Homo sapiens: one gene and its partners. The protein of the gene in region 1 binds, or shares a complex with, the protein of each later gene. Each region holds a gene or a part of one and is shown in the gene's direction. Other genes may lie near its edges.

Region 1 (3,654 bases):
TGGGGAATAATATTTTCCCTGGCTTTGGGAAAGATATTAAAAGGAACTTTACAGTATGATTCTGTTCTCTGTAAAAAGAATTTAGAGTAAAGGTCTGTCTTAGAAACTTGGAACCAAACTAAAGGATCACATCTTAAAGCTCTTCTGTCTCTGATTCTTCCTTACCTTAGACTCAGGTAAAGCATTGTTAGTAAGGTCATAGGACAGTGGTTTCTTAACTTTTATATAACATGAATTACCAAAATTCCACAGACAGTCCATTTTCTTCAAGCCCTAGATCAATCCAGATCTCCAGAGGATAAGAGGCCTGCATATTTTTTAGAGTTCTACAAGTGATTCTTTCTTCACAGTAGTGCCTGTTAAAGAGAAAAATTACTACACTACACTTTTCTTTTTTGTAATTTCATAGTAGATTCATTAAAATCTTGTCATGGAAAAGACACTAGGATTTGCAAATTACTATTCCAGACCAGCTTTTGAAAACCCTGAAAATGGAAAATTCAGGAGATTCCCCCCTTAAAAATGAAGAAATCAAGTAAGTCTAAGCAAAATATCTCCTACTAACTTAAGGATCTTTAAGCAGCAACATCTATCATGTTACGACTTCTAAAAGTTAGAAACTGCCATTTAATCAGCACTATAACCTCATGAGGTGAGTATTCCTGTTTTACAGGTGAGGAGACAAATTTAGGTAGGTTAAATCATTTTGCCAAGGTCACCTAGCCATAAAGTATTGCAGCTGAGATTTGAACCCAAGTCTGTCTGATTCCAAAGCCTGTAGTCATGTTACCACTCTTGTAACCATTATGTTATACTGTCTTAGCTCTTTTTTATAGAGTGGAATCTGACTTGTAATTCTTCATCTAGTATTGCGTGGCCCACACCACTTGAGTACATTTCAATAAAGTTTTATTGAGCGCCTGTGATGCTGCTGCAAGGCATAGTTTATATATATTGCTAATGTGTCCTTATATTTTTCTTTATAGTTTGTATGTAGTAAGTGGATTTTGGGTATATACAAAATGCTTGTTTGCCAAGTGTAAAAATATGACATAGCTAATACAAGAAAATGTAGTCAAAGAGTTTATGTTCTTTTTTTTTTTTTTTGAGATGGAGTCTCGCTCTACTGTCGCCCAGGCTGGAGTGCAGTGGCACCATCTTGGCTCACTGCAAGCTCTGCCTCCCAGGTTCACGGCATTCTCCTGCCTCAGCCTCCCCAGTAGCTGGGACTACAGGTGCCTGCCACCACGCCCAGCTAATTTTTTTGTATTTTTAGTAGAAATGGGGTTTCACCGTGTTAGCCAGGATGGTCTTGATCTCCTGACCTCGTGATCTGCACACCTTGGCCTCCCAAAGTGCTGGGATTACAGGCGTGAACCACCGCGCCCGGCCGACAGTGATTTTTCATAAAGGTGTTCCCTTTGTTCTGGGATTTTTAGCCTTCATACATTTTTACTGTTAGGCATTTCCTTTTTCAGATGATGGTGATAATAGTTAAAAAAATTTTATTGATAGTATTAAGGGAGTCCACTACCTTGTGTCAGATTCCCTGTTTCTTTTTGAAGCCCTTGAAATGAAGTTTAGGGACCACTGATCTAGAATTCTCTTTATGCTCCTCCACTACCCATTAACCCCACTCTGTAGTCTGCCTTTTCGCTTTCTTCTCTCCTCCCTTCTAAACACTTCGTAGAACACTATGTTTTCTGTTCATGATTGACCTTCAAATTGCCAAATCCTTTGGCCTTATAAACCGTATGTACTTAACCAACACTCTGTTGTTAACAAATCCTTCAAAACTGTTTTCTTTTGCTTCCGCTCTGTTTTTCCTGTCATCCACTTATCACTTTTCTTCATATGTTTTCTTTCTTTTGTTCCCAGTTGTTATTATGTGGGGTTCTGGTTCTATTTTATGTTCTCACTGTATATTCAGAATCAGATTTTTAGCTACCATGTACCATCTTAATAATACCTAGCATTTATTTACTCTTTCCTAATTGTTATTTCAGTGCTTCAGTATTTCAGTATTCATTTAATTCATTCAGTATTCATTTAATTCTCAAAACAACTCAGTGAGGTTGATACAGGTATAATTGGTGTCTTTTTTTTATTTTTTCTGACACTGGCATATCGAGGCCCAAAGGTTAAGTAATCTATGCAACTAGGAGGCAGTAGAACTGGGATTTAAACTTAGACTGCCTGTAGAGGCCATGTTCTTAACCACTACTAGATTTTTGGCGTCCAGATGTCCCTTGTATTTCTAACTTCCGTTTAGTTTTTCTACCTCAAATTCAATACATCCATTCAGTTAATCTCAAGTGCCTGCCTCTTTCCCTTGACAAAACACACTTGCTCATTCTTTATTCCTTGCCACATTAAAGTTAACACTATCCTCCCCATCGCTAGTACTATAGAGGTCATTGAACCTTCCCCCTGCGTATGGCCTGTGAGTTTTATTGATTCCAGCATGATTATTTGGTGATATTTGAGTGCGATTTTGTGCTAGATCCTGGGTGTATAATGATGTATGAGACACAGACTTTGTCCTCAGGGAGCTTATACTCTAGAAATAATTTTTTTTTTTTTCAAGAGAGCGTCCTACTCTGTTGCCGAGGCTGGAGTGCAGTGGTGCCAACATGGCTTACTGTAGCCTCAGGCTCCCGAGCTCAACTGATCCTCCTGCTGCAGCCTCCCGAGTAGGTGGGACTACAGACATGGACTATCACACCAAGCTGTTTTTATTTTTAGTTCAGGTGGGTTCTCAGTTTGTTGCCCAGGCTGGTCTTGAACTCCTGGGCTCAAATGATTCTCCCACCTCATCCTCCCAAAGTCCAAGTATTGGGATTACAGGCATGAGCCATCATGCCTGGCCAATAAAATGTTACAACAAATTAGCAGAATGCTGAGAGAATAAATGGTGATAGGAAACCTGTATATGTAATGGAGTTTCAGATAATACCTAATATTTATTGAGCACTTTCTTTTTTTTTTTTTAGAGACAGTTTTCGCTCTGTCACTCAGGCTGGAGTACAGTGGTGCTATCTCAACTCACTGCAACCTCCACTTCCTGGGTTCAGGCAGTTCTCATGCCTCAGTCTTCTGAGTAGCTGGAATTACAAGCACCCACCAACACGCCCAGCTAATTTTTGTATTTTTTGTAGAGATGGAGTTTCACCATGTTGGCCAGGCTGGTCTTGAACTCCTGACCTCAAGTAATCCGCCTGCCTTGGCCTCCCAAAGTGCTAGGATTACAGGCATGAGCCACTGCGCCTGACCTATTGAACACTTTCTATATGGTTGACATTATTTTTGGTTCTTCAGTACATTTAATTCTCATAAAGTTCCTAAATGTATACTTCTAGATCTGAAGTATCGGGAATACCTAATTGTACAAAGAACATGCCAGTTGGAAGCTACAGCATTTAGCAGAAGTTCTAAAGTAGGAAAGAGCTTCATTTAAACTGTGAACTGGCCAGGTGTGGTGTCTCACGCTTGTAATCCCAGCGCTTTGGGAGGTTGAAATGGGAGGATCACTTGAGCCCAGGAGTTGGAGACCAGCCTGGGCAACAGTGAGACCCTGTATCTAAAAAAGAAAAAAAAAAAAAAGAAAATGAGTGAACTGGACTATAATGATTCAAAAGGCTAAGTAATATAGGT
Region 2 (3,654 bases), on another chromosome or scaffold:
AGTTGAATCACCTTGAAAACTGAGTTCTGTTCAAATGTAAGTTGGTGTTGTCATCTGACAGGGATAGGATATGAAGGACTATGGGATTTTAAAAATATATTTATTGATGTGGAAAAGTGAATGACATTGAGTCCTTTAGCCAGAAAGCAATGTCTTCATTATTGTTACTTCTAGTTTGGCATCCAACCCCAAAGCGTCACCCTAAGCTCTGGGGCCTATGCCATTTTAATTCCATGGCGTCCCTTCCTGCCCTTGAGGGGCTTCCTTCTGGGGGCTAAGCCTCCTTCTCAGGACCAAGTACTCTGGTATTCTTCAGGGGAGGTGAGTGCCTTCCTGTGTGTGTCCAGAATCAGGGTTACATGAAAAAGGTTTTAGCTGCCTCATCCTCACTTTCTCACTCCCCTCTCTCCTCACCCCTAGGCTTCTCCATGCATAATGAGGAGCCTTTTGCCCTTTTACTCTTCTCCATGGTTACCAAGTTCTGCAGTGGCCTGGCTCCTCACTTCCCCATAAAGAAGGTCCTGCTCCTGCTCTGGAAGGTGGTCATGGTGAGTAATTCTCCCCACTCCCACATTATCAGATCAGCAATGCCCTATGCCACCTCAGTTTCTTCTAGTCTCATTCCAGGAGGCTGGATCCAGGGAGCAGAACAGGCAGCCCTTAGCCAACTGCTAATATGGAGGGGCAACAAGGCTGTCCTAGAGACATCAGATGTTCTATGTTAGAATGGGTTTCATGTTTCTATTGGATGGATGGGAGATGCCACTCCATAAATTGGGGATGTCAGTGGTACCTTCTCTTATTAAAGCCAATGTTTGATGGAGAGAACACTGGTTGAAAGTTGGTAGATCTGGGCTTTGCTGATACTGAGAAACTTTGGGCAACTCTCTGTGCCTCAATTTCTCTAGCTGTAAAAGGTTGGGGTGAGTGCCTGCCCTCCCTCCAGATAAACAGAGGTTTTGTATTTTTTTTTTAATAAAAATAATTTTTTCTTACAGACAGGCCTCCCTGTGTTGCCTGGGCTGGTCTTGAACTCCTGGTCTCAAGCAATCCTTTCACCTTGGCTTCCCAAAATGTTGGGATTACAGGCATGAGCCATTGTGCCTGGCCAGGATTTGCTTTTTAAAAAATAATGAAGTTCTTATAAATATGTGGTTACATTTCTGTTACTAGTTATTCAACCTGATCCTTCATTTTTGGCTCCCATCTCACAAGGCAGGCCTAATAGGGGGAACTGCCTCTTGACTGCAGAGGAAATTGAGTGACTCTGGGGGTTTATAGCACCTGGATGGTGTTCCTTAAAAAAGTCGATAGTTTCTTTTTTTTCTTTTTTTTTTTTTTTGAGGAGGCCCGCAGGAATTCCTTTCCTAAATTCTGTGATATTTCCCATACTGGGGCAGTAAATAATGCCTTATCCTGACCCCTGAGCTCCTCAGTTGCCGTGGGGATGGTAATCATATTTGCCTCTTTATGTTTTACTACCTCCTTATTAAGGAAAAGGTCTGAAGGGACTGGAGGTTGTGGCCCTTTCTTTTCATCCATGTTTCCCTGACCTTGGCTCTCTCTTACTTCCCTTCCTTCCTCTCTCTCTGCCCCTTTCCTGTTTCTTCCTTAGTTTACCCTCGGTGGATTTGAGCATCTGCAGACTCTCAAAGTACAGAAGCGGGCAGAATTGGGCCTGCCTCCACTGGCTGAAGACAGTATCCAGGTGGTGAAGAGCATGCGTGCTGCCTCCCCGCCCTCTTACACTCTTGACCTGGGAGAGTCTCAGCTGGCACCCCCACCCTCCAAGCTGCGAGGCCGCCGTGGCTCTCGAAGGGTATGGACTGAAGCAGACAATGGTATTGGGACACCGACTGGCCAAAAATCAAGATTCTAAGTTACTCTGGGTGTGGTAGGAAAAAGCAGTAAATGACCCGGCTCATCCTGCCCAGGTTGGCCCTATGACCAACCTGAAATCTTAGGGTCTCTAGTTTGGCCTCTGTCCCCCAGCCCTGACAGCCCCCTGCGCTGTTGTGATGTGACACTGTGATATCATGTCATATATAGCCATGTCTTGCTACAGAATCATTGGCCTGGACCTCAGTGCCTGGAGTTCCTTACATTCTGAATAACAATTAAGGGTATAATCCTGGGGATAGGGACCCAGGATACCGGAACAGGTCTCCAAGCAAATCCATTTTTCTGGGGTAAGGCATTTTACTATTTTGAAGCACCAGGAAGTTTTACTGTCAGCCAGCCACACTCTTAACTGGCCCTGGAACCAAAGGCTTACATTTAAGAGATGACTGGGTAGGGGTCTATGTATATAACCATGTGACACTAAACGACAGGGATACAATCTGAAAAATGTGTCATTATGCAATTTTGTCACTGAGCAAACATCATAGAGTGTACTTACACAAACCCAGATGGTATAGCCTACTGCACACCTAGGCATATAGCCTATTGTTCCTAGACTACAAACCTGTACAGCAGGTTACTATACCGAACACCATATGCAATTGTAACCCAATGGTGTTTGTGTATCTCAACCTAGAAAAGGCCAATAAAAATACAGTATTATAATCTTATGGGTCCACAATTACATATGCAGTCCATTGTTGACTGAAGCATCGTTGTGCAGCACATGACTATAGTCTGCTGTCCTGAAAAGGTCAGAATGAAAAGTTATACTGAGATCTGACTATGTTCTTACAAACTCCCCTGCCTGACCCACTTCAGTTTATCAACAGGGCTAGATAGTAGTGCTCAGTAATCCAGTCTCCATTATCTGCAATAAAATTTTTTAACTTTATTTTTGTTTTATAAAGTAATGCTTACTCATTGTAGAAAATTTGGAACAAATATAAAAATGTGATGAAGGGAGAAAAGAAAAATCACCCACAATCTTAACAACCAGAGACAGTCACTGTTAACTTTTTGGCCTATTTCTGTCCAATCTTTTTTTCTTTGTCACAAGATTTAAAATTCCAAACTTGCTTCCCTCTGCCTAGCAGCAAGCTTCTGTCCTCCTCTTCCTCAGTCAGCCAGCTGGTGTATGCTCACAGAAGGCAAACTAATTGAATGTTCACCTAAGCAGAGCATAATTAGGAAGGAAAGTGCTGGCAAAAAAAGGCATCACTGCTTTCTGAAAGCTAAGTAATTGTGACTTTGGGATTATCTATGCTATGTTCCCTGGCTAATGGCAGGGTTACCTGAGAACTTCTTGTCCTGTTATTGGGCCGGGTGGGGACAGTAGGTTAAGGTGGGGAATTGGATGTTTTCGCAAGGGCTGTGTTCAGATTCCATGTTCCCTGAAATGTGGAGGCCTGTGGATATGGGGTGGCCTCAGACAAGGATGCCCAGAGTGAGATCTCTGCATGCCTACCCTCCCTTCTTTCCCCTCCAGCAACTCCTCACTAAGCAGGACAGCCTGGACATCTACAATGAAAGGGATCTCTTCAAGACTGAGGAGCCCGCCACAGAGGAGGAAGAGGAGTCTGCTGGTGATGGAGAACGAACCTTGGATGGAGAGCTAGACCTGCTAGAGCAGGACCCTCTGGTGCCACCTCCACCCTCACAGGCACCCCTCTCTGCTGAGCGGGTGGCTTTTCCCAAGGGCCTGCCCTGGGCCCCAAAGGTCAGGTAGGTTTGATAGCATCAGGGACCCCT
Region 3 (3,654 bases), on another chromosome or scaffold:
ATGAAAATACTTTTCTGTGTACATATGGATAACATAATATTTGACATACATTGCTGCAGATTGTTTCTAGAGAACATTTTTTCTACAATTTGGTAGGCATTTAACAGTCTTTTGCCTCGTGTCCAAACAGAGGCTTAGGAATAAATGGCCTTGGTTGACAGAGAGCTCTGTTCCAATAAGGCATTAAACCTTAGCTCCAAGTTTTCAAACCTGACTCATCAGCAGTCACCTGAGGAGTTGCGCCTCCCCCCACCCCCTTTTAAAATAGAGATTTCCAGTATTTATCAGCAGGTCTTTCTTTTTTTGTCCAGCAAAACCCTCCCTTCTTCTCCCCTGTGTTTTTGTCTCCCTAGGTGCATGAGGCAACATGTTTCAGACCCACTCTTTTGACTTGTAGAATCTAGCCACTGTTATTGTATATGAAACATACGCTCATTTTGATGACTAGCCCCGGAAACACATTTTATTCCTCTTTAGCAGAATATTGAAATACACTACAAAGTAAGACTATATAAACTTCTGTCTGATCACTATGTAATTTGCTCCATTATATTCCATTTTAAATAACTCCATTGTGGATTTGGAGAAGCTTGCATATTTAGAGATTTGACATGTTTTATTTGTTGAAATTGTAATTTTTCTCACAGAATAGTCCTATGACAGCATTTTATTAAACAATAGTGGGTTTATGTCCATCACACCAATATACAAAGATTCAACTTAAGCCATAAATGAAAGGAATAGTTATCTAATTAAAAACTGCTGTTACTAAACCAGAGGCAAAAAAAAATTAGATAACATTTATGTAAGACTTACTGTCCTACTTGAATATGTAATGTTTCAATGTTTCAGCCCAATACCAGTGTTTGACCTGAGAGAGGTAATAAGTAAAATATTATTGAAATAATCAATGAAAATGGAATTACTACTTCAGAGTACTCTAAAATACTTTTTTAAAAAATATCAAAATTCTGTATGCTTTTAATTCTTAAAATTTCTACAAGCTTATTTACTGAAAAATATGCTGGGAAACACCCACATGCACACAGAAACCTGGACACTGAGGTTTTTTTCCCCTTGAAATAGGAATGTTGAAATGTTTTAGATAGGAAATAACTGAAATCTGGCATTTGTAATTAGTATTAGTAATAAAATGTTATGTTTAGGATGGTGCAGATTTCCATCTTATTCATTTCTTCACAGTTGCATTGCATTTGAAGTTTTTGTTGTGACTAACAGCTAAGAGAATGACTGTGAAAAAGAAGGTTTGTCGCAGAGAATGTGAGACTATTTGAGAATGCAGAATTACATCAAGTTCAATTTGGCGGAAAAAAATTGCTATGAGGTTAAAATGTGGAAATCAAAAGGGGCTAGTTAGAAAGGCAAAAAAAAGTTCAGAAAAAATGGTGCATGGATAGGAAGAACAGTCAACTCAAATGAGAATTATTCATTTCTTCTTTTTTTTCTTTAGAAAGGGGAGGGAGGTGATGATGCATATATAGTCAAAGGATGATTGCTGGGAAGGTTAAAGTGCAAGAATATTGTGATGTTGTCTCCTCTAGTAATTTAAATATTTTCCAAAGGGAATAGTGACTGATAGTAAGTGTTTGAAAGAGGAGGATATTTGGCTGCTAGATAGAAGCTAAAAGTGTCTGTAAAAGAGTAAGGGAGGAAGAATATTTCCTCAGGGGAGAGGAATATTTTCTGAGGAGGAAATATTTTATGTTAAACATCAAAACTAATAGGTATCTAGCATACAGCATTGTTAAATACAGAATTGAGTTATATGTAATGCAGAATATTATAAAATTGTTCCTTGTTCAAATAACAAAAGTAGAGAACATGGTAGCTTGAATTTAGCTACATTAGCCAGAGCAAAGAAAAATTTTAAAATGGGAAAAGACAGGCATAGGTAATGTTTATCTTTTTATAAATTTGAGTAAGGAACGCTTAATGAAATGTGATTGATTTGAGAAAGTTGGTCTTGGTTGGCAACCTTTGGTCAGCAGTGCAAGAGAATCAGGATTACAGAGGGGTATAGGCTAAAATCCCCACTCCAACCAGCTAGCCGAAAAGGCTGGCTGTTCTTGAAGTGATTGCGCTTAACATAATTAAGAGTGTACTGTGATTAGATTAAGAGTGTACTTAATTTCTTTCAAATGTAGCTGATGTTCTTTTCTCTCACAAATTTCTTTCAAATGTAGCTGATATTCTTTATTCTTTTCCCAACAGGGATATAGCTAGTGCAATAAAAGAACTTCTTGATACAGTGAATAATGTCTTCAAGAAATATCAATACCAGAACCGCAGGGTACGTTTAGTAGAAGCCTTGCTAGTTGACACCCTAGATGTTGGTTTATGCCTAGTTGTTTTATTGACTTAAAAATAAGATTGATTGTTGGAAATAGTTTTGTGTCATTAACCATTGAGTTTATTCTTGAATTTAAATATGCCTTTTTATTTAAAAGTGAGTACTCCACAATTGCTTATTAGTAATATTCATATAAAGTGCATCCCATATCCTGTGTAATCTCTTGTCCTTGCCTTTGGCTTTTGTGATTATTTCTCTTATTTAGTACTTTATTTCTTATTATATTTTGTGACTGTAGGCACTTGAACACCAAAAGAAAGAATTTGTAAAGTACTCCAAAAGTTTCAGTGATACTCTGAAAACGTATTTTAAAGATGGCAAGTAAGTACTGTAATTTATCCTTTACTTTTAAAATTAAATAGATTATGTGGTTTTATATGATATGAAAACCACATAAATTAAGCCCTTTTATTTTATTATTAGTACTCCAGGCAACTGATAATGAAGGCAGACCATTAACAATAGAAAATGAATGGTTGCTAATCTAGCCATAACTCCTTTCTAGAACAGGAGTTATCAGACGCTTTCTGAAAAGAGCCAGGTAGTAAATATGTTAGATTTGGTGGGCCTGTTGCCGTTATCCACCCATCTCTGCTGTTGTAGTACAGAAACAAGCCATAGACAATGTACAAACAAGGGGGTGTGACTGTGTTTTAATAAAACTTTATACAAAATTCAAATTTCAGTATCTTGAAATAATTTTTACCTGTCATATAATATTCTTCTTTTGTTTTTTAACCATTTAAAAATGTAAAAGCAATTTTAGTTCATTGGCCTACTTTATACACTCCTGAAACAGTGGTTCTCAAACTTTAGTGGCATCAGAGTCATCTGGAGGACTTGTTACAGTCAAATTGCAAATTGCTCGAGGGTCCCACTTCTAGAATTTCTGATTTCGTAGGTCTAGGATGGAGCCTAAGAATTTGCATTTCTTAGAAATTTTCAGGTGATACATTACAGGTCTATTGAGAACTACTGCACTAAAGTTAAAGCAATAGTTGTCAATCCTTTCTGTGCATTAGAGTCACTTGAGGACAGTTTTTAAAAAATTCCCACTGCCTAGGCCCCACCTGCAGAGATTCTGATTCAGTTGGCTGGGAGTGGAGTCAGGGTTTAGATATTTTGTAAAAGTGCCCCAGATGTTTTTAAAGTGCTGTAAGGGTTTTGACCCACTCTCCTGGAAAGAGGCTTTCACAGCATCATTCTATAAAATAGGAAATATACTAAAATGTAAATTGGACATTATTTTTTAATTTATATATAATTGGTTGTGATGCACTATA

What was found.
Region 2: STRN3 (region 1) and STRIP2 share a complex: the UniProt entries of both Homo sapiens proteins name them as parts of the core of STRIPAK complex.
Region 3: STRN3 (region 1) and PDCD10 share a complex: the UniProt entries of both Homo sapiens proteins name them as parts of the core of STRIPAK complex.

Annotation. Positions count from the first base shown.
Region 1 is NC_000014.9:31,019,836-31,023,489, reverse strand, and holds part of STRN3 (striatin-3), read left to right. Parts: intron 1-3,654. UniProt on the Homo sapiens protein: Calmodulin-binding scaffolding protein which is the center of the striatin-interacting phosphatase and kinase (STRIPAK) complexes.
Region 2 is NC_000007.14:129,454,824-129,458,477, forward strand, and holds part of STRIP2 (striatin-interacting protein 2), read left to right. Parts: intron 1-420; coding exon 421-548; intron 549-1,615; coding exon 1,616-1,819; intron 1,820-1,876; exon of another isoform or gene 1,877-2,189; intron 2,190-2,999; exon of another isoform or gene 3,000-3,259; coding exon of another isoform or gene 3,260-3,391; coding exon 3,392-3,627; intron 3,628-3,654. UniProt on the Homo sapiens protein: Plays a role in the regulation of cell morphology and cytoskeletal organization. Required in the control of cell shape. Calmodulin-binding scaffolding protein which is the center of the striatin-interacting phosphatase and kinase (STRIPAK) complexes.
Region 3 is NC_000003.12:167,686,272-167,689,925, reverse strand, and holds part of PDCD10 (programmed cell death protein 10), read left to right. Parts: intron 1-2,232; coding exon 2,233-2,311; intron 2,312-2,609; coding exon 2,610-2,692; intron 2,693-3,654. UniProt on the Homo sapiens protein: Promotes cell proliferation. Modulates apoptotic pathways. Increases mitogen-activated protein kinase activity and STK26 activity. Important for cell migration, and for normal structure and assembly of the Golgi complex.